Linked DNA regions of Homo sapiens. The protein of the gene in region 2 purifies or fractionates together with the protein of the main gene of each other region. This does not show direct contact. Each region holds a gene or a part of one and is shown on either strand. Other genes may lie near its edges.

Region 1 (3,814 bases), on a different chromosome or scaffold from region 2:
CAGGCCTGCTCTGCCCTGTAGAGGTTGTTGAAGGCCCGGGCAGCCTGGGGGCGCTGGCAGGACAGGAGCTTTCTGGGGGGTGGATGTGTCCACAGCAGAAACCTGGGCCCAACTCAGTCCAGCTTAAGAGGAGGTCCTAGACCACGAGATGCCCCAGGGTCTGTGCACCTCCCAGGCCCAGCAGGGAGGGAGGGGCGTGTGGTGGGTGATGGTTCAGTGGAGTGAGTGGTGGGTGCAGCCTTCCTGCTGATGAACCACCAGGCCTTCCGGCCGGCACCAGTCCATGGTCCCTGGCTCCGGCAGGCTTGTCCTCCCTGGTGTGGTGCTTTGCTAAACCTCCGCCCTCCCTCCATCTTCCTCCCACAACAGAACAGTGTTGAGGCTCTGCCAGGCGAGATCACTGCCTCGTCCTGACTCCCTGGGCCCGGGACCATCCCTGGCAGGCACTTGAGGGGGGCCAGCAGCCTGGGGCCCGGGGCTCAAGGCCCCGTGGGGTCTGGCGAGAGGCAAGGGCCCAGGCACTGATTCTCTGAGTGCTGGCAAAGGGCCTGTGGTGTCCGCTGGTGTCTGGGAATTGCTGGAGGGTCAAAAGCATTAGGCTTAGCCAGGAAAGTCATGGTTAGGGTTAAACTCATGTCTGCTGAAAATTGCCTGAATTAAAATTGAACAAATGTGCCTTAACTCGAAAGAAAAGAGCAGACATTCAGAATAACACGTTGCCAAGAACCCTGAAGGGTGGCCCCTCTGAGGCACCAGCTACCCCCAGCCGGGCTGGCGTGGAGGATGGCGGGGGTTGTCTGCTGGTTGGGTGGCATGTGGACTTGTCTTGGATGCCATGATTTATATACATATATATATATATACTTTTTTTTTTTTTTTTTTGAGACACTCTCGCTCTGTCTCAGGCTGGAGTGTAGTGATGTGATCTCGGCTCATGGCAATCTCCCCTCCCAGGTTCAAGTGATTCTTGTGCCTCTGCCTCCGGAGGAGGCTGGAATCACAGGTGTGCACCACCATGCCTGGCTAATTTTTGTATTTTTAGTAGAGAAGACGGGGTTTTGCCATCTTTTTTTTTTTTTTTTGAGACAGAGTCTCGCTCTTGTCACCCAGGCTGGAGTATAGAGGCGCAATCTCGGCTCACTGCAACCTCCACCTCCTGGGTTCAAGCTATTCTCCTGCCCCAGCCTCCTGAGCAGTGGGATTACAGGCACCCGCCACCATGCCCGGCTAATTTTTTATATTTTTAGTAAAGATGGGGTTTCACCATGTTAGCCAGGATGGTCTCGATCTCCTGACCTTGTGATCCACCCGCCTCGGCCTCCCAAAGTGCTGGGATTACAGGCGTGAGCCACTGCGCCCAGCCATAATTTTTGTACTTTAGTAGAGTCAGGGTTTTGCCATATTGGTCAGGCTGGTCTCGAACTCCTGACCTCAGATAAGCCATCCGCCTCGGCCTCCCAAAGTGGTGGGATTATAGGTGTGAGCCACCATGCCTGGCTGCAGCCTTTTTTTTTCTTTTTCTTTCTTTTTTTTTTTTGAGACAGAGTCTCGCTCTGTCCCCCAGGCTGGAGTGCGGTGGTGCGATCTTGCTCACTGCAAGCTCCGCCTCCGGGTTCACGCCATTCTCCCGCCTCAGCCTCCTGAGTAGCCGGGACTACAGGCGCCTGCCACCACGCCTGGCTAATTTTTTGTGTTTTTAGTAGAGACAGGGTTTCCCTGTGGTAGCCAGGATGGTCTCGATTTCCTGATCTTGTGATCCACCTGCCTCGGCCTCGCAAAGTTCTGGGATTACAGGCGTGAGCCACCGTGCCCGGCCCCAGGCTGGTAATTTTTTATTTTTTGTAGAGGCAGGGTTTCTTTGTTGCTCTGTGTGGACAGAAAGCTTAGTTTGTTTCTCTGATGGTTAGTCCCCCACAGAATTTTAACGTGATTCTGTGTTGATGACACTTTCTGTTGCATGAGACAATATTCCAGATCTCTCTGGGTCCCTCCTGGATTCAAGGCATCCTCCTGCCTCGGCCTCCCGAGTAGCTGGGACCACAGGTATGTGTCACAGCCCAAGGCCTCCAGCACAAGCCTTATTCTCCCATCCCCAGACTCAGGAGGCCATGCAGCCACACACCGGGGGAGGGTTCCAGACGTCACTGTGGGACGGGAGTGACACCAACAGGGCAGGGAGGGCCAGGACATTGGCTCATGCTGGCCGGTGGCCTCTCGGGATTGGCCACACGTGCTCAACCCATGGGAATCTCACTCAAGGGTCTGATGGGCCTGCTCCTCCTGTTTACGCCAAAGTCCAGAAGGCCTCCGGGGGCGAGTGGGAGGACGCAGAGTGGGTGAGCGGAGCTACCTTCCTCACCGCGGTCCATGTGGAAGCCAGGGCAGGGGAGGGGCCTGCCCACTGCACCCACCCCCAGCACCCCACCCCGTGGCTGCCACATCTCACCTCTGGACAATTTTCTTGGCCCATCCTTGGGAGTTTTTTTTTTTTTTTTTTTTTTGAGACAGAGTCTTGCTCCTGTCACCGAGGCCAGAGTGCAGTGGCATGATCTCAGCTCAGTGCAGCCTCCGCCTCCTGGCTTCAAGCAATTCTCCTGCCTCAGCCTCCAGAGTAGCTGGGACTAAGGCGCCTGCCACGACGCCTGGCTAATTTTTGTAATTTGGTATAGATGAGTTTCACCATATTGGCCAGGCTGGTCTCAAACTCCTGACCTTGTGATCCGCCTGTCTCAGCCTCCCAAAGTGCTGGGATTACAGGTGTGAGCCACCGCGCCCAGCTGGGAGTTTATTTCTTAGATGTGTGTTAACTTCAGCTGAGGCTCCTGTGTGCCTCTGTTTCATGGCCTTCGGGTGTTGGCCGCCCTCTACTGAACGTGGTCCCTGAGGCCGCAGGGACTGTGCAAAGCCGGATGTCCAGGCCCTGGGAGTCCAATGGGGGCAGTCGATTCTATGGATGGCACATCCTCTTTGCCTGCCCTGCCCTGGGCCCTCTCTTGGCCCACTTTTCTGGGTACGTTTCAGGCCCTCATGCCCAGTTGGGGCCCTAGCATGGGTCAGGCCCTCCGCCTGGTGTCGCCTTCTTGCCCGGGCTGAGTCTTTGGTTTCTTTCTTTGTGGGTTCAATGTCGAACGCTTTGCGTCAGTGGGACTTCTGCAGGACCTGGGCGGCGCAGGTGTCCGGAAGATGGGACAGGTTTCTGTTCCGATGGCGCCTCTCTCCCCTTCCTCCCGCCCGGCAGTACTTAGGTTCTTCCTTCAGAAAGGATTTCCCCATGACTTGAAGAGCAGGCTCTCGCACGCAGGCCCGAAACCTGCTCAGCCTCCCCGTGGCCCTGAGCCTGTCTATTGAAGGCCCCGCCTCACCCGCCAGCGGCTCCTGTCCTCTCGCCTTGCTCTGAGCCTTTGCCTCGTGGCACTCACTGGCACCGTGGTTTTGCTGCCGGAATTCAGGTGGGATCTTGCGTCCCTGTGAGCTCATGGCTTGGTCTGTGGTCCCTTTGGTCCTCCTCAGGTCCTCACAGCCTCTGGTGGGGCTTGCAGGTCTAGCCCTCTGGGCGGGGCCTCACCTCGCATCTCCTCGCCAGGAGATCCAGAAGGGTGGCTGCTCGCTCATCCTTGTGTAGCTGAGGAGGCTGCTGCTTTGTCCCTGAAGTAGACATTTCTCCTTAACTGAATGATTCTTAATTTATTGCCTCATCTACATAAATAGTTGAGAATGACGTAAAGGAGGAAAGGACTTAGAACTGTCCAGGCCTCAGGGAAGAGCTGGCCTTGAACGTCCATGAGCTCTGCCAGCCAGTGACACCAGTCCCATC
Region 2 (2,636 bases):
AGAGTCTGCAGCCAAGAAGGACCTAGAGGAACCACCATGACCCCAGCAACAATCCCTGTCCTAGCTCAGCACTGACTGGTGCCAGGCCTGGTCCCACCCATCACTTGAGCTAATTTTTCTGATCATCTGACCCATGAGTAGCTATTAGCTTCCCCTAAACGCTGGGAGGGGCAGCCTGAGGCTCAAAGACACGCAGTGACTTGCTCAAGGGCACGCAGCTACCAGAAAAGAAGTTTGAACCCAGGTCTGCTGAACTCCCAAGCCAGTGTTCTTAAAAGACGGTCCATAGTTGGGGCAGCACAGTGGGGACTGCGATGAAGGCAGTTACCCTGTCCCGCTGGATGCTCTCGGCTGGGGTGTGCTGGGACTCGCAGAGGAATTTCCCGTCCCAGAGATGGGAAGATTTGGCGGAGATGATTTCCCCCTCTCAAAGCCCCTCAACCTCTGGCTGGGGCTTGGGAACAAGGTCACCGAGCCTTGCTGTTCAGCCTTCCTTGGCAGCTGGCCTCCCTCCGTGTGCACCCACACACACACGCCTTCACACACGTGCACACGTGGGGCCAGAAGGGATAGGGTGAGGGGAACCAGAGACAGGGAGGATTCCTCAGAGACTTTTTATTGACTCTTCTCTGAACACTGTCGCCGGAGCAGCAGTGGGCGTCCCTTCCTGGGCCTTCGTTGCGGGTCAGGAGGGTGTCCGCTTGGGCTCGGGGCTCTGCTGGGCCTCGGCGTTGTCCTTGTGGCCCTCCTCCTGCCGCTCAGGCTCCAGCAGCAGCAGCTTGCCCTGCACCGGCAGCTCTTCTTTCTCCTCCTCTTCCCCCTCCTCCTCCTCTTCCTCCTCTTCCTCGCCCGCTGATGACAAGGAGAAGTTATCCTGACTCACACAGGCCATGAGCTTTTTCATGGAGGATTCGTGGCCCCGGCCATGGCCCGTGCTGTGGCCTGGGCTGTGGCCTGGGCTCTGGCCTGTGTTGAGCTTGGCACAGCGGGAACCCATGGTCTACGTTGCCTGTCTCTCTGGGCAAGGAGGTGAGGCGGTGGGTGAAGGGGCTGCGAGTGGGGGCAGGATGCTGACATCACAAAGGGAGCCCATCCCCACTTGGGAACCTGGGTCTGAGCCAACAGTTAACTCACACCTCAGCCACTGGCAGCTCCCAGCCCCCACAGGGGAGGTCTGCAAGGCTGAGCACTGGGGCCAGTTCGGATGCCACACCATAGTCCTCATTTGCCCTGGAGAAAGTTTCCCTTGTAGCTGGGATGGGAGTTAGGGATTGAATTTCTAGAAGCAGGAGGGGCACACACAGACTCCTCCCCACATCCCAGAAATCGCCAGCCAGAGAGAGCTGTCTCTGTTGAGTTTCTTGACTGTTAACCCTTGGAAATAAATCATCAAGCTGTGTGCTTAAAATGTATGCACTCTGTAAGCTCATAAAACTCAGGAACCCTTGGAAGTCTTCCTTCGGGGGCCTGAAAGTGTGAAATCTTCTTGAAAGGCAATGGCTCCTAAGCATTGTTTGTTTGTCCAAGGCATGGGAACAGGCCAGAAACCAAGCTGGGATGAACAAGGGGTTGCTTTGTCCCTGACTGATGCAAGATGGACACCACCAACCAGAGGCCACTCTACCCAGGTCAGGGTGGAGTGACATCCTCTTAAGTGTTTTGGGGCCACAGAGAAGACATCATGGAGCTGCCCCTTGGCAAGGTTCCACATCTGTGCAGCACAATTTCAGCATGGGGGGAGGGGGTTTAGGACTTTGTCTTTTATACATTGAAATGAGTCGTTTGTACACTGCAATGGTATTTTTTAAATATAAATTTTTTGAGGCCAGGCGTGGTGGCTCACACCTGTAATCCCAGCACTTTGGGAGGCGAGGCAGGCAGATCATCTGAGGTCAGAAGTTCGAGACCAGCCTGGCCAACATCGTGAAACCATGTCTTTACTAAAAATACCAAAAAAAAAAAAAAAAAAAAATTTGTTTAGCTCCTTCAGCTACTCAGGAGGTTAGGGAGGAGAATCAGTTGAACATAGGAGGTGCAGGTTGCAGTGAGCCAAGATCGCACCACTGCACACCGCCCCAGTGACAAGAGCGAAACTCCGTCTGTTTTTTTTTTTGTTGTTGTTGTTTTGTTTTCAGAAACTCGTTGCTTCCTAAAGATTGGTCATTTCTGAGCACCAGAAATCCATTTGCCAACATATGGATTGGATCTTGCCAGTCTTATCCCCCCAGTCCTCAGTGGCTATGGTTGGCTAAGGTTGGCACTCTCCGAAGTGCCCCCTTCCTGATCCTGGAATCTATGATGTAAGGATTGTGAGATGGGGAGGTTATCTTGGGTTGTCCAGAAAGTCCCTCAGTGCAATCACAAGGGTCCTTGATTTCAGACAGGAGGGAGGAGTGATGCAGCCACAGGCCGAGGAGAGCAGGCAACAAGGATCGGATTCTGCCTGGGTCTCCAGAGGCTTCAGCCAGCACAGGCCTCACACAGCGCAGCCCATTACTCTGCATTCATCTACTCCTTGCCTTTTGCCGTCTCTGTGCTGACCAAGTTGTTGCTGGAGCATGCCAGACCTGTTTCCCACCTCGAAGCTGTGGCCTGCACTGAGCAGTGCCCCCACCTCTGCCCCCACCGTTTACACT

What was found.
Region 1: the proteins of PRM3 (region 2) and SSU72 purify together in Homo sapiens (affinity purification with mass spectrometry; one large-scale study listed by BioGRID and IntAct). This does not show direct contact.

Annotation. Positions count from the first base shown.
Region 1 is NC_000001.11:1,547,242-1,551,055, reverse strand, and holds part of SSU72 (RNA polymerase II subunit A C-terminal domain phosphatase SSU72), read left to right. Parts: intron 1-3,814. UniProt on the Homo sapiens protein: Protein phosphatase that catalyzes the dephosphorylation of the C-terminal domain of RNA polymerase II. Plays a role in RNA processing and termination. Plays a role in pre-mRNA polyadenylation via its interaction with SYMPK.
Region 2 is NC_000016.10:11,272,599-11,275,234, forward strand, and holds PRM3 (protamine-3), read right to left. Parts: upstream 1,032-2,636; 5' UTR 998-1,031; coding exon 686-997; 3' UTR 601-685; downstream 1-600. UniProt on the Homo sapiens protein: Protamines substitute for histones in the chromatin of sperm during the haploid phase of spermatogenesis. They compact sperm DNA into a highly condensed, stable and inactive complex.